7 linked regions of the Homo sapiens genome follow. The protein of the gene in region 4 interacts with the protein of the main gene of each other region in a biochemical or structural test. Each region holds a gene or a part of one and is shown on either strand. Other genes may lie near its edges.

Evidence for each region.
Region 1: the proteins of UBE2K (region 4) and RNF138 form a complex in vitro, tested with the Homo sapiens proteins (one study listed by BioGRID).
Region 2: the proteins of UBE2K (region 4) and TRIM6 form a complex in vitro, tested with the Homo sapiens proteins (one study listed by BioGRID).
Region 3: of the proteins of UBE2K (region 4) and USP1, one has a biochemical effect on the other in vitro, tested with the Homo sapiens proteins (one study listed by BioGRID).
Region 5: the proteins of UBE2K (region 4) and AMFR form a complex in vitro, tested with the Homo sapiens proteins (one study listed by BioGRID).
Region 6: of the proteins of UBE2K (region 4) and MAP3K1, one has a biochemical effect on the other in vitro, tested with the Homo sapiens proteins (one large-scale study listed by BioGRID).
Region 7: of the proteins of UBE2K (region 4) and RIGI, one has a biochemical effect on the other in vitro, tested with the Homo sapiens proteins (one study listed by BioGRID).

The regions. Positions count from the first base shown.
Region 1 is NC_000018.10:32,098,193-32,102,246, forward strand, and holds part of RNF138 (E3 ubiquitin-protein ligase RNF138), read left to right. Parts: intron 1-4,054. UniProt on the Homo sapiens protein: E3 ubiquitin-protein ligase involved in DNA damage response by promoting DNA resection and homologous recombination.
Region 2 is NC_000011.10:5,599,406-5,603,459, forward strand, and holds part of TRIM6 (tripartite motif-containing protein 6), read left to right. Parts: intron 1-3,840; coding exon 3,841-4,054. Other genes in the region: TRIM6-TRIM34 (tripartite motif-containing 6 and tripartite motif-containing 34), read left to right, coding at 3,841-4,054.
Region 3 is NC_000001.11:62,443,273-62,447,326, forward strand, and holds part of USP1 (ubiquitin carboxyl-terminal hydrolase 1), read left to right. Parts: coding exon 1-47; intron 48-1,465; coding exon 1,466-2,157; intron 2,158-4,054. UniProt on the Homo sapiens protein: Negative regulator of DNA damage repair which specifically deubiquitinates monoubiquitinated FANCD2. Also involved in PCNA-mediated translesion synthesis (TLS) by deubiquitinating monoubiquitinated PCNA.
Region 4 is NC_000004.12:39,770,928-39,774,981, forward strand, and holds part of UBE2K (ubiquitin-conjugating enzyme E2 K), read left to right. Parts: exon of another isoform or gene 1-772; intron 773-3,906; coding exon 3,907-4,006; intron 4,007-4,054. UniProt on the Homo sapiens protein: Accepts ubiquitin from the E1 complex and catalyzes its covalent attachment to other proteins. In vitro, in the presence or in the absence of BRCA1-BARD1 E3 ubiquitin-protein ligase complex, catalyzes the synthesis of 'Lys-48'-linked polyubiquitin chains.
Region 5 is NC_000016.10:56,422,746-56,426,945, reverse strand, and holds the start of AMFR (E3 ubiquitin-protein ligase AMFR), read left to right. Parts: upstream 1-1,400; 5' UTR 1,401-1,618; coding exon 1,619-1,873; intron 1,874-1,956; exon of another isoform or gene 1,957-2,035; intron 2,036-2,211; exon of another isoform or gene 2,212-3,276; intron 3,277-4,200. UniProt on the Homo sapiens protein: E3 ubiquitin-protein ligase that mediates the polyubiquitination of lysine and cysteine residues on target proteins, such as CD3D, CYP3A4, CFTR, INSIG1, SOAT2/ACAT2 and APOB for proteasomal degradation.
Region 6 is NC_000005.10:56,884,781-56,888,834, forward strand, and holds part of MAP3K1 (mitogen-activated protein kinase kinase kinase 1), read left to right. Parts: coding exon 1-46; intron 47-1,151; coding exon 1,152-1,283; intron 1,284-2,597; coding exon 2,598-2,740; intron 2,741-3,445; coding exon 3,446-3,577; intron 3,578-4,054. UniProt on the Homo sapiens protein: Component of a protein kinase signal transduction cascade. Activates the ERK and JNK kinase pathways by phosphorylation of MAP2K1 and MAP2K4. May phosphorylate the MAPK8/JNK1 kinase.
Region 7 is NC_000009.12:32,480,858-32,484,911, reverse strand, and holds part of RIGI (antiviral innate immune response receptor RIG-I), read left to right. Parts: exon of another isoform or gene 1-3,414; coding exon 3,415-3,572; exon of another isoform or gene 3,573-4,054.

The sequences.
Region 1 (4,054 bases), on a different chromosome or scaffold from region 4:
GGCCAGGCTGGTTTTGAACTCCAGGCTGGTTTTGAACTCCTGACCTCAAGTGATCCTCTTGCCTTGGCCTCCCAAAGTGCTAGGATTACAGGTGTGAGCCACTGCGCCCACAATATATTTCTTATAGTTTAAATTTTTTAGAGATGGGGTCTTGCTTTGTTGCTCAGGCTGGTCTCAAACTCCTGGTCTCAAGCAGTCCTCCCACCTGAGCCTCCTGAGTAGTGGGGACTACAGGTGAGTGCCACAGCACCTGGCTTTGTAATTTTAACAGCTTTATTGGTATCTTGTTACTTGAGTAGTTATGCTCTAAGTATATACTTTAAAATAATTTTCTTCTTTCCTAAAATCTGTGCTATTTAATTATATAATAAAGGTTGAGGCCGGGCGCAGTGGCTCACGCCTGTCATCCCAGCACTTTGGGAGGCCGAGGCAGGCGGATCACAAGGTCAGGAGATCGAGACCATCCTGGCTAACACAGTGAAACCCTGTCTCTACTAAAAATACAAAAAAATTAGCCGGGTGTGGCGGCAGGCGCCTGTAATCCCAGCTGTTCGGGAGGCTGAGGCAGGAGAATGGCATGAACCCGGGAGGTGGAGCTTGCAGTGAGCTGAGATGGTGCCACTGCACTCCAGCCCGGGCGACAGAGTGAGACTCCGTTTCAAAAAAAAAAAAAAAAAGATTTACTTAATTTTAAATCTTGAGGACTAGTTTACAACCTTTGATTTTTTTTTTTTTTGAAGTTTTTTTGGGGAATGATCTCGATTATCGACTCGGAAAATAGATAGACTAAGTGCCAGATTTTAAATTATTTAATTTATACTGAAATTGGGAGCATGATGAGTGGGAATATTGTTTTTCCTCTCCCAGTGTTGTTGATTAGCCTTTTGTTGGGAGAATGCGTAATGGAAATTCGTCTAGCATCTGCTAGTTTAAAGTTGAGAGAAATGTAAAGAGACCTTTTTTGGTTATAGGGTAATGCCCTGTTCTGAAGATACGGGCCTTTTCAGGAACATGAAAATTAGTTTTAGTAATTCTTGATTTGTACCTTTTTCCTTCCTACTTCTGCTTTGTTTTGAAATAAGTTCTGTCTAGCACTTTGATCCATTCCAGCCCAAAGTGAGATGAGAATAATTCGTTTTATGTCTGAAGAAACATGCTTGGTTGTACAGAGGAAGGAACAGTAAAATTGGAGATAAGAGACCTGAATATCTCTATTTTATTTTATTTTTAGACAAAATCTCGCTCTGTTGCCCAGACTGGAGTGCAGTGGTGCAGTCTTGGCTCACCGCAACCTCCACCCATTGGGTTCAAGAGATTCTCCTGCCCCAATCTCCCGTGTAGCTGGAACTACAGGCATGCACCACTATACCCGGCTAATTTTTTTGTATTTTTAGTAGAGATGGTGTTGCACCATGTTGGTCAGGCTGGTCTCCAACTCCTGACCCCAAATGATCTGCCCCGCCTCGGCCTCCCAAAGTGCTAGGATTACAGGTGTGAGCCACTGCACCCGGCCATTCTTTGTACCTGTTATCACAGTTTGTAATCATAACATTTTTGGAATCAGATAATTTGACCAATGTCAGTTTCACTGGTTAGGCTGCAAGCTTTATAAAGAAAGCATCCAAGATCTCCTGTTACTTACTTAAGCCTACTAATATATCGTTTCACATATGAGAGTTTTTCCTGCCAGCTAAATTCTGACAAATGGAATTGCTGGGTCAAAGGGTAGATACAAACAAATATTTCTGATACATCACACAAGAATAATTGCAGCTCTAGTGAAGTGTCTTGTTCATGGAAAGTGCTCAAGGTTTTGATTTGAGAACTGTCAATTATATCTTTTGGTTAAGGGATTTAATACTTTTTAAATTAAGGTAAATTGGCATTCATTGCTTTAGCAAATATTAGGACTGCCTAATAGGTGCCTAGCACTGTTAGGTGCCAGGGATATTGTAAAGAGCAAATAGATAGGATCCCTGCCCTCTTGGAGCTGGGTGTTAGTGATTGAGATATATATATATATATATATAAAATCTTTGGTTGTACAGGGGAAGGAACAGTAAAATTGGACATAAGAGACCTGAATACCTCTATTTTATTATTTTATATATATATTTGAGACAGGGTCTTTCTCTGTTGCTCTGTTGCCCAGGCTAGAGTGCAGTGGCATGATCATGGCTCACTGCAGCCTTGACCTCTCTGGGCTCAAGTAATCCCCCTTTAGCCTTCCCAGTAGCTGGGACTACAGGCATGTGCCACCACCACACCCAACTAACTTTTTTTTTTTTTTTTTTTTTTTTGAGACGGAGTTTTGCTCTTGTTGGCCAGGCTGGAGTGCAATGGCGCGATCTCGGCTCACTGCAACCTCCGTCTCCCGGGTTTAAGCGATTTTCCTGCCTCAGCCTCCCAAGTAGCTGGGATTAAAGGCATGCGCCACCAGGCCTGGCTAATTTTGTATTTTTAATAGAGACGGGGGTTTCACCATGTTGGTCAGGCTGGTCTCGAACTCCCAACCTCAGGTGATCCACCCACCTCGGCCTACCAAAGTGTTGGGATTACAGGCGTGAGCCCCCGCGCCCGGCCTGTATTTTTTGTATAGACTGGGTTTCACCATGTTGGCCGGGCTGGTCTCGAATGCCTGAGCTCAAGCGATCTGCTCGCCTTGGCCTCCCAGAGTGCTGGGATCACAGGCCTGAGCCACTGCGCCTGGCCTGAGATATATTTAAATTAAAATAAATGCTCAGAAAAATGGTGTAATTACAAATGTATAGGTTTCGAGAGAGTATAAGAGAGGGATCAGATCTAGTGGGTGAGTATCGATGACCCTTTCTTTAGGAAGTGATATTGTTGCTGATATCTAAGAGAGATATAGGTATTAATTTGTGGAGGGCTGTGCTCGTGCATAGAACATTCTGGGGAGAAGAAACATTCTGGACAAAGGTCCCGAGGTAGGAGGGAACATGCAGGGCTTTGTATTTGAATGACAGAAACATCTTCTGGGCTTCAACCTCTTATAGGTTTCTTTTTTTTTTTTTTTTCAAAGACAGAGTCTGGCTCTGTTGTCCAGGCTGGAGTGCAGTGGCACACGCAGTCTTGGCTCACTGTAACCTCCGCCTCCTAGGTTCAAGCCATTCTTCTACCTCAGTCTTCTGAGTAGCTGGGATTACAGGCGTGCACCACCACTCCTGGCTAATTTTTGTGTATATATATATATTTTTAAATTAGAGTCAGGGTTTCACCATGTTGGCCAGATTGGTCTTGAACTCCTGACCTCAAGTGATTTGCCTGCCTCACTCTTACAGGTTTATTAACATTTTATTTTTTTAAGCCTTAGTTTCCTCATCTGTAAAATGAAGGAACTTATTAAGAAAAATTTATTTTTTTTTAAGAATTCAAGATCATGAATGGATAGTTTCTGGGATCCAGCCTAGCACCTAGCACATATTATGTACGCAATAAGTGTTAACTGCTATTTTCATAAATGTCATGTTGCTTTCCCAAAAATTGAGCTAATTTACAAAATGCCATTAGTACTATAAAAGTATATTTGTAATCCATCATCTTTGCCAATTTTGTTTTTTTAAGCATTTTTATGCTATTTTAATACAGTTCATAGTGGTGTCTAGAAGTCACATTAAAATGTATTTCTTTAGTTGCTAGCAAGGCTGCATGCATTTTTCCATATTACATTTTTGCTTGTTTGAGACAGGGTCTAACTCTGTTGCCCAGGCTGGAGTGCAGGGGCATAATCACGGCTTACTGCAGCCTCAACCTCCTAGGCTTAAGCGATCCTCCCACCTCAGCCTCCCAAGTAGCTGGGACTACAGGCGTGCACCACCATGCCTGGCTGATTTTTTTTTTTTTTTCTTCAGTAGAGAGGAGGTCTCGCTGTGTTACCCAGAATGGCCTCAAACTCCTGGACTCAAGTGATGCTCTGGCCAGGGCTTCCCAAAGTGCTGGTATTACAGGTGTGAGCCACCACACCTGACCTTCTTTTAGTTTCTTTTTTTTTTTTTTTTTTTTTTTTGAGACGGAGTCTTGTTCTGTCACCCAG
Region 2 (4,054 bases), on a different chromosome or scaffold from region 4:
TTTATTTATTTATTTTGAGACGGAGTCTCGCTCTGTCGCCCAGGCTGGAGTGCAGTGGCACGATCTCGACTCACTGCAAGCTCCACCTTCCGGGTTCACGCCATTCTCCTGCCTCAGCCTCCCGAGTAGCTGGGACTACAGGCATCCGCCACTACACCCAGCTAAATTTTTGTATTTTTAGTAGAGACAGGGTTTCACCGTGTTAGCCAGGATGGTCTCGATCTCCTGACCTTGTGATCCGCCTGCCTCAGCCTCCCAAAGTGCTGGGATTACAGGCTTGGGCCACCGCGCCCGGCCAACACAATTATTTTTTAACAGTAACACTTTGATAAGATAGCACATTTATTTCTATACTCTAGTGCCAACATCAAGGCCAACTATAAGCTCAGCAGTAAGCTATAATTTTCAATCCATTATAAAGTTAATTGATCATTTCCTGTGTTAGCTGCAGTGCTAAGGTCTGGGGCACCTGGAAGATAAATAGAGCCTCTATTGCCTCTAGAGCCTCTATTGCCTCTATTATCAAAGGCAATAGAGCCTTATAGTGCAGTGTGCTAAGTGAGATGATGTGGGTATGGTAGGAGATATTAACAAAGGAAATAATAGTGCAGTTCCCACAGGTGTGATTAATTTGGTTAAACAGACTCTCAGATGATAGGTAAATACGTCTGTAACACCAATTAGTACTACCAGTTAGATGCACAGAGTTCATTAATTTGTTAATTATATTTTGCACCCTTTATGGAGATGAGGAATATAAGGGAGTAATAAGAGCTCCAGCTCTGCAGCCTGCGTATCTGCATTCAACACCGGCCCCGCCACTTGAAAGATCTACTAAATACCAGTTTATACAACTATGAGATGAGATTTAAGGGACATTCATAATGTTGTTATGTGGAATTATTGAGTTATTATGTACAAAATAATTAAATTCTTGCTGAATACCTAATGGGCTTTCTGTAGATATTTGCTGTGAGCATCGCTGCTGCTAAGCATGGCAAAGCTGAAGAGCCAGGCTAGTACTTGCAGAAGCACCACAGAACACTAGATGGCAGCGCCAAGAACCTGTTTTCGGCTCGCTAGATCCCCCAGCAGGGCCGCTAGGAGGCTTATGCTTACATCCCATGACTTTTTCTTACCCTTATCTGAGACACTTTCTCAGGCCCTTTCTTCTAAGGGGAGTGTTGTTATTGGGAGGCAGTTTGATATACTTTTTAAATCCACCAGGTCCTCAAGATGGGGGTAAATTGGTACAATTTACAGGGCCTTGTGTTGAGGCCCACACGGACTGTTTTTTACATCAGTGTACATTTACTTTTGCTGGGAAACCAGCCAAAGACAAGTTAGAGAATTCTGCCTGCTCCCTACGCACTGTGGCCTGTTCAGAACAGCGAGGTCACGCCTGGAACCAGGGCCAGAGCTTCACATAGGCAGTGTTAGCTGGCTCTTCTTTGGTGGCCCAAACACAACTCCAGGTAGACAAGCAGAACAAATGGCTCCCAGTGAAAATAACTCAGTGCTGGAAACAGTTTTAAAAATTTTCTAAAGAGTATTCTCAGTGTGATTTTAAACAATGGTAACGTAATTTATCAACAACTCTTCCAAGAAAAATAGACAATAAAGGTCATATTTCTCAATGAAGATATAAGGTCTCAACTGCCTTACCGGCCACCTCTCCTTACATATGGACCCCCTTAGGATCCTGCTGAAGTTTAAGACAGGCCCTGGCAAAATCCCATCATCAAATAGGATCTCTCTCATTTCCATACTTCGAAAGCACTTGGTCCATGCCTGACTTTCACAGCCTTTACCACTGACTGTCTTTGGTCAAAGTTATGAGTTTGAGGACGAAGCTTTGAACTAGCACCCTGGAAAGGTTAGGTTATGCCAATTCTACAACTTACAAGGTGCATGATTGTGTAAAGTCACTTAATGTCTCTTCTTATTAAAGAATGGAGAATACTCTTATTTATGCAGAGTTGTCCATGAGGGATAAAGAAAGCAAGAGAATGTGATTTCTAAATCACAACTGGTTACAGAATCATGAGTTGTAAAAATATTACCTCCCCAGGCTGGGCGCAGTGGCTCACGCTTGTAATCCCAGCACTTTGGGAGGCCAAGGCAGGCAGATCACTTGAGGTCAGGAGTTCGAGATCAGCCTGGCCAACATGGTAAAACCCTGTCTCTACTAAAAATACAAAAATTAGCTGGGCATGGTGGCGCTCACCTGTAATCCCAGCTACTCAGGAGGCTGAGGCACGAGAATCGCTTGAACCCGGGAGGCAGAGGTTGCAGTGAGCCGAGATAGTGCCACTGCCCTCCAGCCTGGGCGATAGAGCAAGACTCAGTTTCAACAACAACAAAAAAATTACCACCCCTTATTGTGGCCATTGCTGTTTCTTTGGTTTTTTTCTGAGAAGGCGAGCATGTGGTGAGAGGGCTCTATGTGGAGCAGGGCCGTTAAGAAGTGGAAGTGTTTTCACAGTCTTAGAGATCAGATACCAGAGAGTGATGCAAAGGTGATGGCAGAGAGGTGAAAGAGCTCATGGAAAGGTCACAGATGATCACTGTAGAGGATGAGGGGGTTCTGACCCCCTCATTCATCCAAAGTTGAGGACCTATATGTCAGGCTCTATGCTAGCTGCCGAAGATACAACCATGAACAAAAAGTCTCAGATCTCATGGAGCTTACATTTCACTGCGAGGATTCAAACAAGTAAAGATCTGTATTAAGTGGTGTAAGAAGTAAAATAGACCGGGTGCAGTGGCTCATGCCTGTAGTCCCAACCCTTTGGGAGGCCAAGGCGGGCGGATCATGAGGTCAGGAGATCGAGACCATCCTGGCTAACACAGTGAAACCTCATCTCTACTAAAAAATACAAAAAAAATTAGCCGGACATAGTGGCAGGCACCTGTAATCCCAGCTACTCGGGAGGCTGAGGCAGGAGAATGGCTTGAACCCAGGAGGCGGAGCTTGCAGTGAGTCGAGATCACGCCACTGCACTCCAGCCTGGGCGACAGAGCAAGACCCCCTAATGAGGTGAATATGTGGAGAGTGATTGTATGGTGGCTGTGCTCTAAATAGACTAGTCAGAGCAGACCCTTCTGATAAGGGAATAGGTAGGAAGCTAGTAAGTCATGCAGATAGCAGAGTAAAGGGTCATCTTTACATCACGAACGACAAATGCAAAAATCCTGAGGCAGCAGTGTGTTTTAGGTGCTTTTAACATTGAGGATATGTTTTGGGTGAGAAAAGGTCACACAGTCTCCAGGTGCGGTGGCTCATGCCTGTAATTCCAGCACTGTGAGAGGCCAAGGCAGGAGCATCACTTAAGGTCAGGAGTTCAAGACCACCCTGGCTAACATGGTGAAACTCCATCTCTACTAAAAATACAAAAACTAGCCAGGTGTTGTGGCACGTGCCTGTAATCCCAGCTACTCAGGAGGCTGAGGCAGGAGAATTGCTTGAACCTGGGAGGCGGAGATTGCAGTGAGCTGAGATTGTACCACTGCATTCCAGCCTGGGTGACAGAGTGAGTCTCCATCTCAAAAAAGAAAAAAAAGAAAAGATCACACAGACAGTGACTCACACAGGCCCCTCCTTTCCAGGGCCTCAGTTTGTCTCTATTCAATAGGAGCAAGAGGAAATTATCACTGCTTTAATATGGGGAGAAATTGGTGCCTTGTATGAGCCGGGATAAAGAACGTATTGGATATGAGAATGAGAAGCCCTTGTTACCCCAGGTGTCTGACCTCTTTATCCAGGACTGGGCAGTCAGTATTCCCTTATTCTCCCTCCTTTCTTACCCTGATCCTTTTTTTGTTTGTTCATCTACCTAGGATTCTACAGGCAGGAAACATCTTAGAAATCAGGGTTGGGCAGGCAGGAGCCAGGAGAGTAGCTACAATGACTTCACCAGTACTGGTGGACATACGAGAAGAGGTGACCTGCCCTATCTGCCTGGAGCTCCTAACAGAACCCCTGAGCATAGACTGTGGCCACAGCTTCTGCCAAGCCTGCATCACACCAAATGGCAGGGAATCAGTGATTGGT
Region 3 (4,054 bases), on a different chromosome or scaffold from region 4:
ACTGATGAACTTGCCACTCAGCCAAGGCGACTGCTTAACACACTGAGGTATAGCCTATAATATAATTTTAGGGTTTCAATTTAGCTACTTGTTTATATCCTTGGAGGAGAATGACATGCGAAGAAACAGGAATAAAGGGCAAGGAAAGTAGAAACTCTAGGTCCACAGTCCTTTATATCCCAGAGACTCTGAATACTGGAAATTTTTTTCATAAATTTGGTGCTAAATTCGTTAGATCTGAACATATTATATGAGGCTTTTTATAGTCATTCATATTTATCTCTAACGTGAATATTCATACATGCTTCTATAGAAGTAGTAATGTGTTTAGTTATAGAGTACTCCCATATCAAGTCGGTGATAAATATTTTACTTATATGCCATATAATCATTGAATCTGAAAATGTCTGAATTTCTAAATGCGTGGTCCTAAGGATTTCACATTAAGAATTATAGGACTATATTCAAAATATGTGTAAGAACTGTAAATTCCAAATATTCTATTTTTATATGTGATTAGAGGAGAACTGTTGGCTAACTGGATTAGATTGCTTTTTGGTATTTTCTTAAAAATGAAACTTTACATATAAAATAGCCTTATTCAAATACAATTATAGGGCAAGTCTTTAAAACAATCACTTAAGCATTTAGTTTAAAAATAGAACTAGGTGCAATATATTGCTATACCTTAGTTAAGAGGTATTGTAGGCCGGTCACAGCTCACACTTGTAATCCCAGCACTTTGGGAGGTGAAGGTAGGTGGGTCATTTGAGGTCAGGAGTTCAAGACCAGTGTGGCCAACATGGTGAAACCCTGCCCCTACTAAAAATACAAAAATTAGCTGGGTGTGGTGGTTTGCACCTGTAGTCCCACCTACTCGGGAGACTGAGGCAGGAGAATCGCTTGAACCCGGGAGGCGGCGGTTGCAGTGAGCCAAGATTGCGCCATTGCAGTCCAGTCTGGGCAACAGATCAAGACCCTTGTCTCCAAAAAAAAAAAAAAAAAAAAGGCCATTGTAGCGTGGTGGCCAAGAGCGGGTTTGAATACTGGCTTTTCATCCTAAGTAGTTCTGTGACCTTGGGCAAGTTATTTAACCTGTCTGTGCCTTAGTGCTTGTATCTGTCAGTAATGGTGATAATAGTACCTCATAGGGTTATTGTGAAGATAATGTATACATAGGAGATAAAAAACATTTTGACTAAAACCTGGTGTATGGTAAGCATTATCTAAGTATTAGTTATTAATATATTTAGAAGAGGATCAAAGTATTATAATGAAAATAGGGTACAATTTACTCTTACTTTTAGTTACAGATAAGAAATTCCAAATTAGTGCTGAATAAATGTCTTGACATTTAAAAAATGAAATAATTTATGATTTTCCTTACATGAATTAATTTCTATATAGGCTTTATGTACTGTATCTTCAAAACTAGAATAGATGAAATGGAAATTTTTATTTATAGGGAACTCAACCCTATGTATGAAGGATATCTACAGCATGATGCACAGGAAGTATTACAATGTATTTTGGGAAACATTCAAGAAACATGCCAACTCCTAAAAAAAGAAGAAGTAAAAAATGTGGCAGAATTACCTACTAAGGTAGAAGAAATACCTCATCCGAAAGAGGAAATGAATGGTATTAACAGCATAGAGATGGACAGTATGAGGCATTCTGAAGACTTTAAAGAGAAACTCCCAAAAGGAAATGGGAAAAGAAAAAGTGACACTGAATTTGGTAACATGAAGAAAAAAGTTAAATTATCCAAGGAACACCAGTCATTGGAAGAGAACCAGAGACAAACTAGATCAAAAAGAAAAGCTACAAGTGATACATTAGAGAGTCCTCCTAAAATAATTCCCAAGTATATTTCTGAAAATGAGAGTCCAAGACCCTCACAAAAGAAATCAAGAGTTAAAATAAATTGGTTAAAGTCTGCAACTAAGCAACCCAGCATTCTTTCTAAATTTTGTAGTCTGGGAAAAATAACAACAAACCAAGGAGTCAAAGGACAATCTAAAGAAAATGAATGTGATCCTGAAGAGGACTTGGGGAAGTGTGAAAGTGATAACACAACTAATGGTTGTGGACTTGAATCTCCAGGAAATACTGTTACACCTGTAAATGTTAATGAAGTTAAACCCATAAACAAAGGTTAGTATAATTCTTAGACTTTGATAGGTAGAAGCATTAGCAGCTACAGAATTAGAATTTTCTCTTCCTAGATACATGTACAATATAATCTCTGGCTAAAATTGTTTCAAGAGAAGGAAATTTAACACTGAATGTGAACTATGGTGTTTTAAGTGCTATGCTTAGATTAGTGTGTGTGTATATATTGTATGCATATATATGTGTGTGTGTGTGTGTGTAATGTCATTAAAGTAATTTTAATTTATAGCTTATAAAGTAGGGAAGTTCGGCCAGGTATGTTAGCTCGCACCTGCAATCCCAGTACTTTGGGAGGCCTAGGCGGGCAGATCACCTGCGGTCAGGAGTTCAAGAGCAGCCTGGTCAACATGGTGAAACCCCGTCTCTACTAAAAATGCAAAAATTAGCCAGGCATGGTGGCGCACGCCTGTAGTCCCAGCTACTTGAGAGGCTGAGGCAGGAGAATCGCCTGAACCCGGGAGGTGGAGGTTGCAGTGAGCCAATATTATGCCACTGCACTCCAGCCTGGGGCGACAGAGCAAGACTCCGTCTCAAAAAAAAACAAATAATAATAAAGTAGGGAAGTTCAGTATATTTTAATGTACATTTAAGAGTACATTTCCCTTTATGCAGTGTTTGACATAAACTGATGAAGGACATTGCATTTAGTGAAATTTTAAAAGTAAAGACTAAGTACAGTCATGTGTTGCTTAACAACAGGGATATGTTCTGAGAAATGTGCTGTTTCATTGTGTGAATTTCACGGTGTACTTACACAACTAGATGCTAGAGCGTACTACACAACTAGCCTATATGGTATAGACCAGGGTATCTAATCTTTTGGCTTCCTTGGGCCACACTGGAAGAAGTGTCTTGGGCCACACCACACAGAATACACTAATGATAGCTGATGAGCCAAAAAAAAAAAAATCAAAAAAGTCTCATAATGTTTTAAGAAAGTTTATGAATTTGTTACGGGCTACAGGCAAGCTTTGCATGGCCTATTGCTCCTAGGCAACAAACCTGTATAGCATATAACTACTGAATACTGTAGGCAACTGTAGCACAATGGTATTTGTGTATCTAAGACGTATCTAAGCATAGATATGTAAACATAGGTACAGTAAAAATAATCATAGACTACTGTCATATGCGGTCCATTGTTAAATAATTGAAACGTTGGTAGGTGGTGCATAACTGTAAGTTACACGATACTTGAACTAGATTTTTACCTAGTTTTGTCCAGATCTACAGATATCAGGGAAAATGTGTAATATTGATATAGTGAATAGTTTTACCAAAAATGTCATCCTTATTCTGGGTTTATTCTATGGGGAGGTGTCTGTAGGAAGGGAGTTACAATACAACTGACTTTTTTTTATTTTTTATTTTTTTTATTTTTTTGGAGACAGAGTTTTGCTCTTGTTGCCCAGGCTAGAGTGCAATGGCATGATCTTGGCTCACTGCAACCTCCACCTCCCGGGTTCAAGCGATCCTCCTGCCTCAGCCTCCCGAGTAGCTGTGATTACAGGCATGCACCACCACACCCGGCTAATTTTGTATTTTTACTGGAGACAGGGTTTCTCCATGTTGGTCAGGCTGGTCTTGAACTCCGACCTCAGGTGATCTGCCCGCCTCAGCCTCCCAAAGTCTTGGGATTACAGGCTTAAGCCACTGTGCCCGGCCTACAACTGACTTCTTTTAAAGACAGTAATTTCATAGTCAGTTTTATCTTTACAGGGACCTTAAATTTCATTAATAGGGTACCTCTAATAAGCTAATAATGCTAATAAGCTGATCTATGAAAATGGAACTGTTATTCATGATATACTTTATTTAAATGGAAAATTGGTTATTTGGACTATAATGAGAAACTAATCTGTATAGACTTACATTTTCC
Region 4 (4,054 bases):
GGTGGGGGGTGGGGGCTTCGGGGCTGGCTTTGGGGTCCTGGCTGGAGGGAGGAGGGACTTGTTGGCGCTGACGCTGCTCACAAGGCTAGCCTCACGGACCCCATCCTCTTTGAGGCCTATTTTGGGCTCAGTGAACTGGCTGAGGGCATTCTGGCATTTCTCCACCACGTGCTCCATCTGCAGGTAGGAGGTGGCTGTAAGATAGTTGACGATGTCCCTAACAGCGAATTCCAGGGTGCCCGTGTAGCAGGAGAGAAGCAGGTCGGCCACGATGCGTGCACTGTGCATCAGGGAGACCTGCAGCTCCGAGCTGGGGTTAAGCAGGAACTGGTCCCGCAGGAACGGTGAGCAGGCGGCTAAGATGACCTTGTGGCCTCGAAACTTGAGGCTGTCGGCCACAATGGTCACGTCGCAGAACCACTCCTCTGCCCGGAGCTTGTTCATGTTCCGTAGCGTAGCGGCCTAGTGGCCGGGCAGCTGGAAGCGCAGGACTTCACCCCAGAGGCCATTGTGGCGGGGGTGGGCAACCCTGGCCCGGTTCCGCGCGCTGTTTTTTTTTAATCCCCTATTTTCCCCACCCCCGCGGGGCCGGAAGCGCCCCCCACACACGGGCAGAGCCAGGGCAGCATGTAGGCGCAGGGCGGGAGGGTGTATAGGGCGCGCTCGCGCTGGCGGGGCCGGCTCCACGTGGGCGTAAAGGGGTAGGGGCGGGAGCGGCTCGTGCGGTGTGTTCCAGGCCTCGCGCGCGCGGCGACGGCGTCGGCTAGGACTCAAACCCTGGAGTTTCTGATTCAGTAGCTCTGGGATAGAGAAAACTTCCCAAGGGATGCTGATGCTGCTGGTTGGATGAACAACACTGAGATCATTGCTTTAAGACATCCATTGTTGGTTGTTGGCAATAACTTAACTTTTTGGCTAGGGGTGGAGGTGTAGGAGACAGTCTGGCTGTCTCCCTCAGGCTGGAGTGCGGTGGCGCCATCTGGACTCACTATAACCTTCGCCTCCCAGGTTCGAGCGATTCCTGCCTCAGCCCCTCAAGTAACTGGGATTACAAGCATGTGCCACCACATCTGGCTAATTTTTGTATTTTTGGCAGACAGTGTTTCGCCATGTTGCCCAGGCTGGTCTCAAACTCCTGGCCTCAAGTGATCTGCCTGCCTCGGCCTTCCTAAATGCTGGGATTACAGGCGTCAGCCACTGCACCCAGCCTAAATTAACTTTTATCGTAGGCATCTAGGGAAGTACTATTTATGTACCAAACTTGGGAAAATTGAGAAAACAGTCACTAATTTTTTCTATTTTGTGGTTCAAATCAGGAACCCAGTTGAAAAAGGCTGGTTTAGAGTAATTGGCTAGTTGTCGTGGCTCACACCTATAATCCCATCACTTTCGGGGGCTGAGGTGGGAGGACTGCTTGAGCTCAGGAGTTCAAGACCAGCCTGGGTAACATGGTGAAACCCTGTCTCTACCAAAAAAAAAAAAAAAAAATTGTTTTTAATTAGCTGGGCGTGGTGGTGTGCACCTGTAGTCCCAGCTACTCAGGAGGCTGAGGTATGAGAATCACCTGAGCCAAAGAGGTCAAGGCTACAGTGAGCCTTGATTGTACCACTGCACTTTAGCCTAGGCAGCGTGAGACCCTATCTCAAAAAAAGAAAAAAAGAAGAATGATCTAATTTACATGGTAAAAATGGGCATTCTCTTTACATGTAACATTTTTAATATGTCCACATATTTATACATACCTCTATTAATTGATAAAGCAACTTTTTTTTTTTTTTGAGATGGAGTCTCGCTCTGTCGCCCAGGCTAGAGTGCAATGGCATGATTTTGGCTCACGGCAACCTCCGCCTCCCGAGCTCAAGCGATTCTCCTTCCTCAGCCACCTGAGCAGCTGGGATTACAGGCACATGCCACCACGCCCAGCTAATTTTTGCATTTTTTGTAGAGATGAGGTTTCACCATGTTGGCCAGGCTGGTCTTGAACTCCTGACCTCAGATGATTGCCCGCCCTGGCCTCCCAAAGTGTTGGGATTACAGGTGTGAGCCACCGCGCCCAGCCAGTGAGACAACTTTTTTTAACAGAAATGCCAAGAATTATTGCTAGACAGGTAGATACTATTTTTTAGACAAATATTAGCTTTATAAAGATATTTTCCTTATAAATACATTTAGAATCATAAATTAAGTGATGTAGTTTAATCCAAAAAACTTGTCCTGTTTCAGAATGTTATGGAATGATTTCATATTTTCTTGAAAATATGGCCGGGCGCGGTGGCTCAAGCCTGTAATCCCAGCATTTTGGGAGGCCAAGGCGGGCGGATCACAAGGTCAGGAGATCAAGACCATCCTGTGTCTCACGGTGAAACCCTGTTCTACTAAAACTACAAAAAATTAGCCGGGCATGGTGGCATGTGCCTGTAGTCCCAGCTACTTGTGAGGCTGAGGCAGGAGAATTGCTTGAACCAGGGAGGTGGAGGTTCCGGTGAGCCGAGATCGCGCCACTGCACTCCAGCCTCGGCGGCAGAGTGAGACTCCATCTCAAGAAAATAAAAGAAAAGAAAAAAGAAAATATATTTGTTTCATAGTATCTTGTTTTTAGAGTGCCATTGAAAGAAAGCCTCACATGCTATTAGTACTAATGATTTATCACTTTAACTTTGTTTAGAGAAATGGATAGAAAAATAAGTGAGTGGATAAAACTAACAAGAAGGTGGCTGGGCGCGGTGGCTCACGCCTGTAATCCCAGCACTTTGGGAGGCCGAGGCGGGCGGATCACGAGGTCAGGAGATCGAGACCATCCTGGCTAACACAGTGAAACCCCGTCTCTACTAAAAATACAAAAAATTAGCCGGGCGTGGTGGCGGGCGCCTGTTGTCCCAGCTACTCGGGAGGCTGAGGCAGGAGAATAGCGTGAACCCGGGAGGCGGAGCTTGCAGGGAGCCGAGATCGCGCCACTGCACTCCAGCCTGGGCGACAGAGTGAGACTCCGCCTCAAAACTAAACTAAACTAAACTAACAAGAAGGATCTTGGCAACAAGAAAAACAAGGACAGTTCAGAATTCGAGTTGTCTTAAGAAATAGAAAAGCTGGCCGAGTGTAGTAGCTCACACCTGTAACCCTAACCTTTGGGAGGCCAAGGTGGATGGATCACCTGAGCTCAGAAGTTCGATACCAGCCTAGGCAACATGGCAAAACCCCGTCTTTACGAAAAAAGGAAAAACAAAAAAAATGCTGGGTGTGGTGGTGTGTGCCTGTAGTCCCAGCTACTCGTGAGGCTGAGGCAGGAGAATCGCTTGAGCCCAGGAGGCGGAGGTTGCAGTGAGACAAGATAGTGCCACTGCCCACTCCAGCCTGAGCGGCAGAGCAAGACACTGTCATTAAAAAAAAGAAAAAAGGCCGGGCGCAGGTGGTTTTTCATGCCTGTAATCCCAGCACATTGGGAGGCCAAGGCGGGCGGATTACGAGGTCAGGAGATCGAGACCATCCTGGCTAACACTGTGAAACCCCGTCTCTACTAAAAAAAAAAATACAAAAAATTAGCTGGGCGTTAAGGCGGGCCCCTGTAGTCTCAGCTACTCTGAAGGCTGAGGCAGGAGAATGGCGTGAACCCGGGAGGCGGAGCTTGCAGTGAACCGAGACTATACCACTGCACTCCAGCCTGGGCGACAGAGCCAGACTCCGTCTCAGGGGAAAAAAAGAAAAAAGAAATAGGCAAATTGTAAAGTAAGGAAGAAAATATATGATAGGCAGATACATAATTATAAATGTCTATGACTTAACTATATAATTAAGATAAAGATCTAAGTAACTTTTAGCTCTACAATTTTTTAATTTTTATTAAGAAAATACTTTGCTTTTGCCTGCAGAGCCCTCTTAATTGGGATATTTTCATGTTTTGCATTTTAGGGCAGCTGCAATGACTCTCCGCACGGTATTATTGTCATTGCAAGCACTATTGGCAGCTGCAGAGCCAGATGATCCACAGGATGCTGTAGTAGCAAATCAGGTAAGATGGCCGCTTTTGAAAGACTTTCTTATATTATGTATGAGTCTC
Region 5 (4,200 bases), on a different chromosome or scaffold from region 4:
AAGGAATAAAACTCCCAAGGTAACATTTTTTTCCTTTGGTAACAGCTTATTGAGATACAATTCGCATATTGAGATAGAACTATTTAAAGTGTACAATGATTTTTCAATTCAGAGTTGGGCAATCATCACCTCAATTTTACATTTTCATTACTTTGAAAACAAACCTATCCCAGCCAGTGACTCACGCCTGTAATCCCTGCACTTTGTGAAGGCAAGGTGGGAGGATCACTTGAGCTCAGGAGCCACAGACTGGTCTGGACAACATAGCAAGACGCTGTCTCTACCAAAAATTAAAAATTAGCCAGGTGTGGTGGCATACGCCTGTAATCCCAGCTACTGGAGAGACTGAAGCAGGAAGATTTCTTGAGTCCAGGAGATGGAGGATGCAGTGAGCATGCCACTGTACTCTAGCCTGGGCCACAGACCCTGTCTCTTAAAAGAAACCTGCACCCTTTATCACCCCCTACTCCCCTCTTCCTCCCATCCCTAAGCAATCATTAATCAACTTTCTGTGTCTGTATATGTACTTGCCTATTGTGGACATTTCATATCAATGGAATCACACAACACGTGGACCTTTGTGGCTGTCTTCTTTGACTTAGCACGTGTTTAAGGTTCGTTCCTATTGTAGCATGTATCAGTAGTTCATTTTTATGGCCGAATAGTACATTTTATGGATGTATCACATTTATCCACTCATCGCTTGACGGACATTAGCGTTGTTCCCATCTTTTGATTGTTAGAATGTAATCAACATTTGTGTACAAGTTTTGTGTGGAGGTATGTTTCCACTTTTCTTAGAGGAGTGGAATTACTGGGTCAAATGGTCACTCTTGTTTGACTTTAAGGAAAGGACAGGTTATTTTCCAAGACAGCTGCACCATTTGACATTCTCACTTCTGGGGTATGAGGGAACACATTTTTATTTCCCGCTAAATCAGGTTCATTTTTTAGTTTCTGCTGGAGGCTACTAGCAAACAGCAGAAACTTGAAAGACTGTTAATATTCTTTCTTCTGGGGTTTCGGGCACCAGGGAAGCTGCGCGGCCCCTAGGAGTGCTGGGGGTAACCTCTTCAGAGGGTTAATGGGGTGGGGGGGGGGCAAGTGGCCGACGGCCTGGTGGCCAGGGTGCCCCGCGCCCTGAGGCCCTGCCCGCCTGCCAGCGCCTGCGAGCCCGAGTGACCCCTGCGCCGCGGCCGGAGCAGGTGCCCTCTGTGTCTGCGGGCCCAGCCAAGCCGTGGTGCGGACGGCGGATGATGCTGGGTGCCCGCCCCCCGGCCTGAGGCCCGGGGCTACGCCCGCTAGGCGGCGGCGCGACCGCTGGGGGCGGGGGACGAAGGCCGCGCCCCTGCGCCCGTCCCGCCAGCGTCCCGCTGGGGGCGGCGGCCTGTCCCGAGCCCGCCCAGGCTCTTCCGCGCCGGCAGGGGCAGCAGCGGGAGCAGCGCGGGGCGGAGCGGCGCCAGCAGCCAGGAGCGGCCCGGCCCGGCCCGGCGCGGCGGCGGCGGCGGCAGCGGCAGCGGCAGCGACGCCAGAGCCCGTGGGCGCCGTTCGCGAGGCCGCCGCAGAGGCCCGGCCGCAGCGCAGGGAAGCCTGGGGGCCAGAGGTCGCCGCTGCCGCCATGCCGCTGCTCTTCCTCGAGCGCTTCCCCTGGCCCAGCCTCCGCACCTACACGGGCCTCAGCGGCCTGGCCCTGCTGGGCACCATCATCAGCGCCTACCGCGCGCTCAGCCAGCCCGAGGCCGGCCCCGGCGAGCCGGACCAGCTAACGGCCTCGCTGCAGCCTGAGCCGCCGGCGCCCGCCCGGCCGAGCGCCGGGGGACCCCGGGCCCGCGATGTGGCCCAGTACCTGCTCTCAGACAGCCTCTTCGTGTGGGTGAGCGAGGCGGCCGGGCCCGCGGGGCAGGGGCGGGGTCCGCTGCGTCACCCTTTATCCGCGGGGGCGTGGTGGGCCTAGGGGCCCCTCCGCCAGGGACCCCCGAGGGCGAGCGCCTGGGGGGCGCGGCCTTGCTCGCGGGAGCGCTGCTGAGGGAGAGTGGTGAGGCGCGGGGAGGGGGAGGGGGCCGCGGGCGGGAGGAACATCGCGTGGGGTTGCGAGGAGGAGGCCCCGAGGGGCAGGCCAGCGTTGAGGGCTCCGGGAAGGGGGTCGGGGAGGCGGCGGGTGATGGTCTGCGCTGGGGCGCGGACGGGGCCTGGGGCAGGGGAAGGGGTTAAGGGGCAGTGGGGAGGAACGGGCTGGGTTTTCTGAGGGACCCTCGGGAGAAACTAGAAGATCTCAGAGGGCAGGTTCAAGGGGAGGTCGGGATCTGGGAGTGCGTTATCCCGAGGGTTGGACGAAGTAGAGTGAAGTTGAAAGCTTTTCCCACTTGGTCAGGCATGGGATTGTTAGCGGATTTTCTTCCGACGAAGAGGAGAGGGCAGAGGGGAGAATTCAGACGTTGAGTATGGGGGAATTTTCGGCACTCAGGTGTCTTTGGACATTCCGGTTGGAGAGAGGCCGTCTCCCACAACTTTTTTGCCGCTTAGTATTCGATTGTCCCCTTTGGGAGCTGTGTAATGAAACAAACACCAAACTGTGCTTCCTTTTCTGCTGCCTTTACCTGATGTTCATGACAGTTTTCCTTTGATGTCTGAACGCAGCAAAACATTCACAGTGTCAAGAGGCAGCCCATCATTTTAACTGAATGTTTCTTATTTGAGGATCTATTCTAACACAGTTTCCAGGTTGTCTGCCCCTGCGAGATAAGCAGCATTGATAAGGCACACATGCTGGTTTCGTTCATTAGAACAGATAATTTCAGACTGATCAGATCAACGGTATTTTGGCTAGAGAATTTTGCTTTCATCTTGGCCTTGAATACTTATGTAAATCCCGCAGTGATCAGAAAAGTTTCTCCAGGATTTAAAGCCTCACTTGGATTTAATATGGCTTCTTGGATCTTGTCTCCTTGCATGTTCCCATTTGGGGTTGAAAGTGGGCTGTAAATGACTGAGAGATTAATATTCCAAGTTGATAGTATGATATGCAACTCATTTGTTATAATTAGTCCCACTGTGCTTCATCAGGAAGCGGTGGGATTTATGGACTCTGTGGGCTGTAGATTAAGTCTCCTGGTCCTTCTGATGGAGAGTTTAGTAGAAGGCAGTGAAGGGTGAAGTTCCTGTTTATCTACTGCTGTGTAAAGCTGAACTTTACAGTCCTAAAGAAGGGAGAAGCGAAAGAACTCAACTCACATCTCTTGCTTAATTTCAAATCTGTTTTTGCATTTGAGTTAGCAGGTAAACAAAGTGATATGGAGAGTGTTTTTGCCATGTTAAGATTATAATGTAGTCTTTGATATTTTTTAAGTCTAAGATATAAATAAGCCTTTGAGAAGGAACCCTTATTTTATTTATATAACAACACTGGTATTGTTTAATGGATTTCCCCCCGCAGGACTTTATTTTGATAAAAGCCATGTTCAGATTCTAAAGTTAATATCTCTTCAGAAAACATTACATAAAAGCTGTTGATTTTTCTGTGATGATGATTACTTTTTAGGAAATTTCCTTTTCTTCCAGCATTTTCAGTAGAGGTCTTACCTCTGGCAGGTTTATCACTTCTTACTCTCCGCTGATGATATTTTCATTTCTCAGTTGATCCTAGTGCTGTTTTTCTTCCATCTTTCCTCTGGGGTCTCCACGTGTTTACTTTGGCCTGCTTTGGTTTCTCAGACCCTCCATGTGCTCACTGTTTGTCTCATCACTCAGTGTATATGTAGTTTCTGCTTTAGCAGCTGAGTAGAAGTGACAATCTCAAAAGCCTTCCCCAGTGGTGGGACAGATTAAGATTGTTGAGTGAATACCCTATGTGGTGGTGCCTTTGTCAACTGGATCCTCCTTGCGCCCTCCCCTAGTTCTATTGAATTCAGATTCAACTTTTTCACGAACACTGCCTGCCAAGGCCAAGCAAGACAAAACAAAGACTGATCCTTCTGCCAGTGCAAGTCCTGCTAGATATTAACATATTGTAATTCCCAAAACTTATCTTTTTAGAGCACAGTTTAGAATAATATCGGTCTGATAGCATCACAGGAGGTTTTTCATGAACAAACACAATTTAAAACCTTTCGAAGGTGTTATTTTGGGCACTTTGGAGGGCATATCTGTGAACAACACTTTCCCCTACCCTCAGTAATATGGCAAAATTTTATAGGGGATAAT
Region 6 (4,054 bases), on a different chromosome or scaffold from region 4:
ACGTGTGAGAAGAGCAATTACAATCTCTTCATTGAATGGATGGCAGGTATGTTAATGTTTTAAATTACAAAATAGTAGTACGTGGATTTAACTTTCTGCAATTTAGGAAAAACCAGTTTAATTAAAATTTATTTCTATCAAATAGTTTGGGTTTCTAAAAACAAATCACCCCAATATATTAGTATGAACCACAAATACTTCGTTTTGTATTTCATTTACTATAAATGAAATATTGACTACCTCTACCTTTTAAATTTTTCCAGTGTGTTTTTAAATGATTGTGTAGCATTGTTGTTTTTAATACTTGATATGTATAAGATATGTATATTTCCAGGTAGCCATGATAAATTGGACAGATGAGGAAGTGTTTTAACATAACAATATACAAACAAAATTAACATATAACTTGAAAACTTACTACAAGTAAACTAGCACTGAAGCATAAAGTTGAACCTTGTCATCTGCTGAAATAAATGAAGACTGAGTTTTATTTTGTATTATACAATGTATACAATAAAATTAATGACCTGATGTGATGAACAGATTGTTTGGTTTAACTTCTTAGATTTGTGTGTGTATTTAAGAGTGCATTTCTCTTTACCAGTCAGTTCTTAAGTATGTTATCTGTTGGTTGGTCTTAATAAAGATTTACACTACAGTAGATAGGTTGACTACTATAAACACTTTTAAAAGCGGCTAAATTTGAGACATGTTCCAGGTCAGAGCTAGTAAATGGTAGAATATGACGCCTAACTCTGGGTTTTCTGTTCCTCCTCCCATTCTTTCCACCTTTTACTACATAATATGTTAACATTGTTTACTTTAGTCATTAATAAAGTTGTTTTGTGTATTTTGAGAAGACAGAGAATTGAATTGTACATTTCAGAAATAGTTTAATCCGAAATTGTTAACTTTTACAGCTTTCTGAAATCTTGACTCTCCAATAAACTGGTTTCCCTGTGGGTTCTGTGAAAATGTCTCCTAATTAGTAGGTTTTTGAGATGATACAGGAATATGTTAGTTTTGAAATGTTTTTCTTCTGTTTCAGATGTGAATGTGAGTTCATGCAGTGAAAACTTTAGAAACCAAAGTGTAATAAATACTTTTAATTCTGTCTTAAGTTTATGATAATTATTTCTATTGTCTTATAGGGGGATCGGTGGCTCATTTGCTGAGTAAATATGGAGCCTTCAAAGAATCAGTAGTTATTAACTACACTGAACAGTTACTCCGTGGCCTTTCGTATCTCCATGAAAACCAAATCATTCACAGAGATGTCAAAGGTGAGAATTCTTCTAATTATTATCTAGTGACAATAAAAAAATTAATTTTAAAATTTGGGGCCAGGCACAGTGGCTCACACCTGTAATCCCAGTACTTTGGGAGGTGAAGGCAGGTGGATCACTTGAGGTCAGGAGCTCGAGACCAGCCAGGCCAACATGGTGAAACCCTGTCTCTACTAAAAATACAAAAATTAACAGGGTAAGGTGGCGCATGCCTGTAATCCTGGCTATTTGGGAGGCTGAGACAGGAGAATTGCTTGAACCCGGAAGGCAGAGGTTGAAGTGAGCTGAGATCACACCACTGCACTCTAGCCTGGGTGACAGAGTGAGACTCTGTCTCAAAGAAGAACAAAAAAATGGACCTTTGTTGATAGTTTCTAACAGTGGGATTTTTTTCTCTGAGTAATTCAGAATATTAGAACTGAAATGAGCCTTAGGGATCATTTAATCTGCCTTCCTCGTTTAATAGAAAAGTACATTGAATACAAGAGAGGCTGTGCCTTTTCTACAGTTTTATTGCTAGTTAATGGCAGAAAGTATACAACACAGGTCTCCAGATTCCCTGTCTTGGCCTCATGATACGCTGACTCCCAGAAAGTTCCTTTTCCTGGTTTTATTTTGAATAATTGGGATATTGGGATATCATCAACTTCTTTTAAGAAAAATTCCTTCAAATCCTTTGTAGGTCCCATTATTTTCCTTATCCTTTTCTTTTTTTTGGAGACAGGTTCTCTGTCACTCAGGCTGGAGTGTAGTGTTGCAAACTTGGCACACTGTAACTCATTTCCTGGGCTCAAGTGATCCTCCCACCTCAGCCTCCCAAGTAGCTAGGACAACAGGTGTGCACCACCATGCCTGGCTAATTTTTTATATTTTTTGTAGAGATGGGGTTTTGCCATGTTGCCCCCAGGCTGGTCTTGAACTCCTGGGCTCAAGCGACCCGCTTGCCTCAGCCTCCCACAGTGCTGAGATTACAGGCGTCAGCCACCGTACCTGGCCTCAGTTTATTTTTCTCAAGAGCAAATTTGGTTTTCTGTCATTAGTCTTTTTAGCTAGTATTTGACATAATGTGTTGAAGTAATTTTATAACTTTTTAAATTAAGCTCTAATTATGAATTTAGCGTACGCTAGAGAGAGCTGTGTGCCTTTAGCAAGAATGAAGTGAAAGGAAAAGAGAATAACTGTTTGCACCTCTGACATGTAGTTCACTTCTTTCTTTTGTCATTGTCCTAGTTCATTAGTATTGTACTGGGCTTTTATCTGTCCTTATTTTTGTTTTTAACATACAAGGTCATTTGCTGTGTTTGTTGACAGGTGCCAATTTGCTAATTGACAGCACTGGTCAGAGACTAAGAATTGCAGATTTTGGAGCTGCAGCCAGGTTGGCATCAAAAGGAACTGGTGCAGGAGAGTTTCAGGGACAATTACTGGGGACAATTGCATTTATGGCACCTGAGGTGAGAAGCATCTTTGAGTGTGATGACAGAAAATATTTTGGAATTCTGTGTAACAGCATTATACTAAATTATCTTGCAGTGGTATCCAGTATGTACTTACCAACTAGAAGTCCGTGGCCCTTAAAATACGGTTTTAATAATATCTTTCAGACCCTTATTCTCGACCTTTCTTTGCCTTGGCAATATTCAAAAAACAGGTTTTAATAGATTTACTTAACGGCTGTTACTAATAAAGAATTCTGGGGTAATTTATAGCAGTTGTTTTGTAATAAACTCAAAGTGCACATAAGAAATTTTTAAAAATATTCTCTCTCTATTCTAAAAGGAGATGAGCATACAGAGGCAGCTCCTGTCTGTAGTGGAAGGAGTTTAAGCATTGTTCTTCTGACTCAGCTTCTTCTGTCGTGTTCATAATTCTTCATGTTCATATGTAGTAATGATCTGTTGTCCTCTTGCCACATAGTTTGCTAAGAGCAAAATTCTGTGATGGGACTCTGCTTCAGAATCTCACAATTCTCCAAAATATTTTTGTGCTACCTGGAAAATTAAGCTCATTAATGAAATAAATTAGATATTAGGTAGTCCACAGAATTCCTGTTTGTACCAGTTTTCTCCCTAAAGTAAGGAAGTAGAATCTATAACTACAAAATGGCCTTCTCTTTTTCAAATGAGTCCTATTTCCAAATTAACTCTGATTTATTTTAGGTACTAAGAGGTCAACAGTATGGAAGGAGCTGTGATGTATGGAGTGTTGGCTGTGCTATTATAGAAATGGCTTGTGCAAAACCACCATGGAATGCAGAAAAACACTCCAATCATCTTGCTTTGATATTTAAGGTAATTGTGAGATAAAAATTACTTCTTTGTGCTAAAAGGAGTACAGCAGAATTTGGCAGGAGGCAAATTTTGATGGGTTCTCCCTAACAATCTAGCATGAAGGTAAATAAATAGTCTGTATATTTATTCAGAGAGGATTTGATATACAAGTTTTTTACTTTAAGATGGTGCAAAAGCAATACAAATTTGGTAAAAACCATACTTTGAATTTTGATTTTTGTCTGAGCTAGCAATATGTGCTATGATACACTGGTGATGCTAGGCAGTGGCAGCGAGTCACAGCTCCCAGTCAGCCACACAATCACGAGAGTGAACAACCAATACTCTATAGTGGACTGTGTTGTCAGATGATTTTGCGGAACAGTAGGCTAATGTAGGTATTATAAGCACATTCAAGGTAGGCCAGACTAAGCTATAATGTTTGGCAGGTTAGGTGTATTAACTGCATTTTCAACTTAAAAAAATATCATCAACTTA
Region 7 (4,054 bases), on a different chromosome or scaffold from region 4:
TCTACCTTCTAAATCAGCTTTCCCTCCTGACTTTCCTGTTCACCTGAATGAAACCACCATTCCTCTACTGGCTCAGATTTATATCTAGGGACAATCACCCAGCACATTTCCCAGCATTAAAGGAGTGCGACTAGAGATGGGCCAGGGGAAGACAGTGAAGGGCCTGGATTTGAATTTTATCCTAAAAACAATGGGGAAAAAAGTGAAGATTAAAACTGATTAGTGACGTAATAAAGATACCAGTGAATGAGAAGGACCAAAGAGAGGCAGTAGAGATGGATTGGAGAAGGAAGGAGACACATGTGAGATGCTTCCAACTGTGAGTGTTATGATTGAATGGCTAAACGGATTTGGGTGGGGATGAGAAAGGGGCAGGAGGGGCTGATTTCCCCCCAGGCATCTGGCTTAGGCACCTCTATGAATGCCAGTGGGTGGTCCTGGTACCAGGACTAGAAGCAGCCTTGGCAGGTACAAGGTTTTGAGTTTTGAGTTTTAGGGATGTTAAATGTGACGTCTGTAAGACACCTCATGGAGTGTCTCCTCTCACACTTATTTTGCTTTTCTCTCCCCTTTTCTTTCACAGTTTAATTTCTATTATAATTGTTCTAACAGCCTTCTAGCTGATTTTGCCTACCTCTGCTCTCTCTTCCATTCAACCTCTCATGAACTAGTTAGTCTTCATGAATACATTTTATCATGTCCCTGTCCTGCTTAAAAACCCTTTGCCTACAGGATAATCTTCACGCCTCTAACCTGCAGTCTGAGCCCTGCCTGAACACCCAGGTTCTACTTATCTTTCCAATGTTATATTCTACTACTTCCCTACCTGAATCCTTTTGATTTAGCAGTTTCCCGAATGTGTTCATGCATATGTTCATTCATTTAGTGCTAAGGAATGGGCTAGGTGATGGGAATACAGCATGAACCCTAAGATACAGCCCCTGGCCTCAGGGCATTTCTAGTCTGATGGTAAGACCAAAATTAGAGAAGTAATACTAATACTAAAGCAGCTGGTGTGGTGGGGGTGATAAGGTGTGTTTCAGGCACAGGGAATAGCATATGCAAAGGCCAGGAGACTAGAAAGAGTATAGGGACTTCCATTAGTCCTGTAGAATGCTGAAAGGAGAGTGGCCAGAAATGAGAAGCAAAAGCAAGCAGAGGCCAGAGCATGGGGAGGAGTGTGTGAGCTGGGGCAGGATTTTGGCTGCAGGACCACTAAAGGCTTTTAAGCAGTGGGGTGGGATGATTTCTCATCTGCAATTTTGCAAACTCCCTCTAACCACTGGGTAGAGTATGGGTTAGAGGGAACAAGGCAAGAGGAAGGGAGACCAGTTTGGAGATTGTCATATTATCCAGCAGCACACTGATGTGGTTTGAATTGGGGAAGTAGCAGAAGGATGGAGAGACGGTGATGGAGTCACGTGAGTTTCTATTTTCTTACTCCTCCCACCTCCCGTACCCTGCCTCCACCTTTTTGCCAGTCCGAATCCAGTTAGCTGCTCATCTCTAAACTGCTTAGGCTATTTTTACACCTACCCAGGTTCAATCAGTACCTGTTGGCTCATCTTCTTTACTGCTGGCCACCTCGCTGTAGCTGCAACTTGGAAAGAAGCATGTCAATACTACTTGTTTGGGTAGCCTCCTTTGTTCCTATTATTGAAAATGAATGAGTGAGGGGAAGAATTTAACCCAGAAATACAGCTCTTGCTTGTGACTTTTGTTGTACTGTGCTCTTCATGAGGAGCCCTGGCGAACTGATACCAGAGTAACTCACAGACTCAGCTGCTTGAGAACACAGCCATAGTCTCCTCATCTTATCCCCAGCACCCTACACAGAGCCTGGACCACAGCAGATGCCCCAGCTTTGAACCAAGCAACTGAGGCTTATCCTAGGAGATGCACACAGACAGATGCATGTGTGATAAGTGTCTTTTGAGGGCCGATTCTATGCTTGGCCCTGAGAATGCTGCTCTGGAGAACAGGAGGCCCAAGTTCACAGCAAAGCAGAACATAGGGTGAACTGAGTCCTAAATCTCCTCCTTGATTTTTTTTTTTTTTAAGAGTCTCACTCTGTCGCCAGGCTGGAGTACAGTGACGTGATCTCGGTTCACTGCAACCTCCGTCTCCTGGGTTCAAGCGATTCTCCTGCCTCAGTCTCCTAAGTAGCTGGGACTTCAGGTGCGTGCCACCACCCCCAGCTAATTTTTGTATTTTTAGTAGAAACGGGGTTTCACCCTGTTGGCCAGGGTGATCTCAATCTCTTGACCTCGTGATCCACCCGCCTGGGGCTCCCAAAGTGCTGGGATTACAGGCATGAGCCACTGCGGCCGGCCAATCTCCTGCTTTTATATATCCTCCTCTGATGAAGCTCTTGAGACCTGTTATTTTTACTTCTTCATTTTTAAAGGCAAAGTTGGGTTTTTCATGTCTACTGTTTTATTTCTGGGCTGCTTTGGTTGTCAGCTCATAGAGCCAGTAGAGCTTGGGCATCTGACACATGTGGGTTTGAATTCCTGCCCTTTCTCCACGTACTTGCTGTGTGACTATGGGTAAATTACTTATTACTTGGCTTTTCTGAACTTCAGTTTCCCAATATATGAAATGTAATATGTATCTCATGGGTTGTGAAAATTAAATGAAATTATGAATGTAAGGTACTTTGATTCTTGGTACACAGTACTCAAGAAACAATCAAACACACACACACACACACACACACACACAAACAAACACACAGATGCACTGCTTAAAACTCAAGGGAGGGAACAAGGCAAGAGGTAGGGAGAACAGTTTGGAGGTTGTCATATTATCCAGCAGCACAGTGGTGTTATCTCAATGGGGGAAGGAGCAGAAGGATGGAGAGATGGTGATGGAGTCACATGAGTTTCTATTTTCTTACTCCTCCCACCTCAGGTACCCTGCTTCCACCTTTTCACCAGTCTGAATCCAGTTAAATAGTTTTAACTAGATGACTTAAGACTATTTCAGGAGGAATATCCTGTTTGCAGAGAGTAAGAAAGAAAATTAGGCCAGGTGCAGTGGCTCACGCCTGTAATCCCAGCACTTTGGGAGACCGAGGCAGGCGGATCACCTGAGGTCAGGAGTTTGAAACCAGCTTGACAACATGGTGAAACCCTGTCTCTACTAAAAATACAAAAATTAGCCAGGCGTGATGGCACACGCCTGTAGTCTCAGCTACTTAGCAGGCTGAGGCAGGAGAATCGCTTGAATCCGGGAGGTGGAGGTTGCGGTGAGCCAAGATCGTGCCATTGTACTACAGCCTGGGCATCAGAGCGAGACTCTGCCTCGAGGAAAAAAAAAAAGAAAAAGAAAATTAGAGGGTGAGGCCTGTTTATAACCCTAAATGACTGACCATATGAGACAGTGAAAAACTTTTTTTTTTTTTTTTAACAGAAAACTTATCTCAAATTCAAAATAGGGAATTTGGAACACAGAAATATGAACAATGGATTGTTACAGTTCAGAAAGCATGCATGGTGTTCCAGATGCCAGACAAAGATGAAGAGAGCAGGATTTGTAAAGCCCTGTTTTTATACACTTCACATTTGCGGGTACGTTCCTCTTTTTAAGAGTCGTATTCTGGTCACAGCACCTACTGGGAGTGGCACCGTGGAAGCCAAGATAACATCAACTTCTCATCCTGTCCTCAAGAGCTCACTTAGGAACCTTTCCAGAAAGTTCTTATGAAGCAAACTCCAAAAGTTGTCCCATTCAACATCATCTCGATTTCCTTTCTGAAATTTCATACTGCAGGCAACAGGACTGAAATAAAGGCTCAGATTCTATGCCATGCCTCTAGCATTAACTGACATGGTTGGAAAAAATTGGGTGATTGTGAGAGAACATTATTCCAGATACAAGACCAGTCCAGTGACAGCATCTTGAAAGCTCAGCAAGTGGAAAGTTCTGTTGCTATGTCCTGAAGCACACATTTCTTCACCTTTGGTGACGCCCCATGCTCAGAAATCCAGGTTCTCTGGCTCACCAAGAAGTTAAGGAACTATAGTGACAGCTATCACCTCTGCTTATCCAG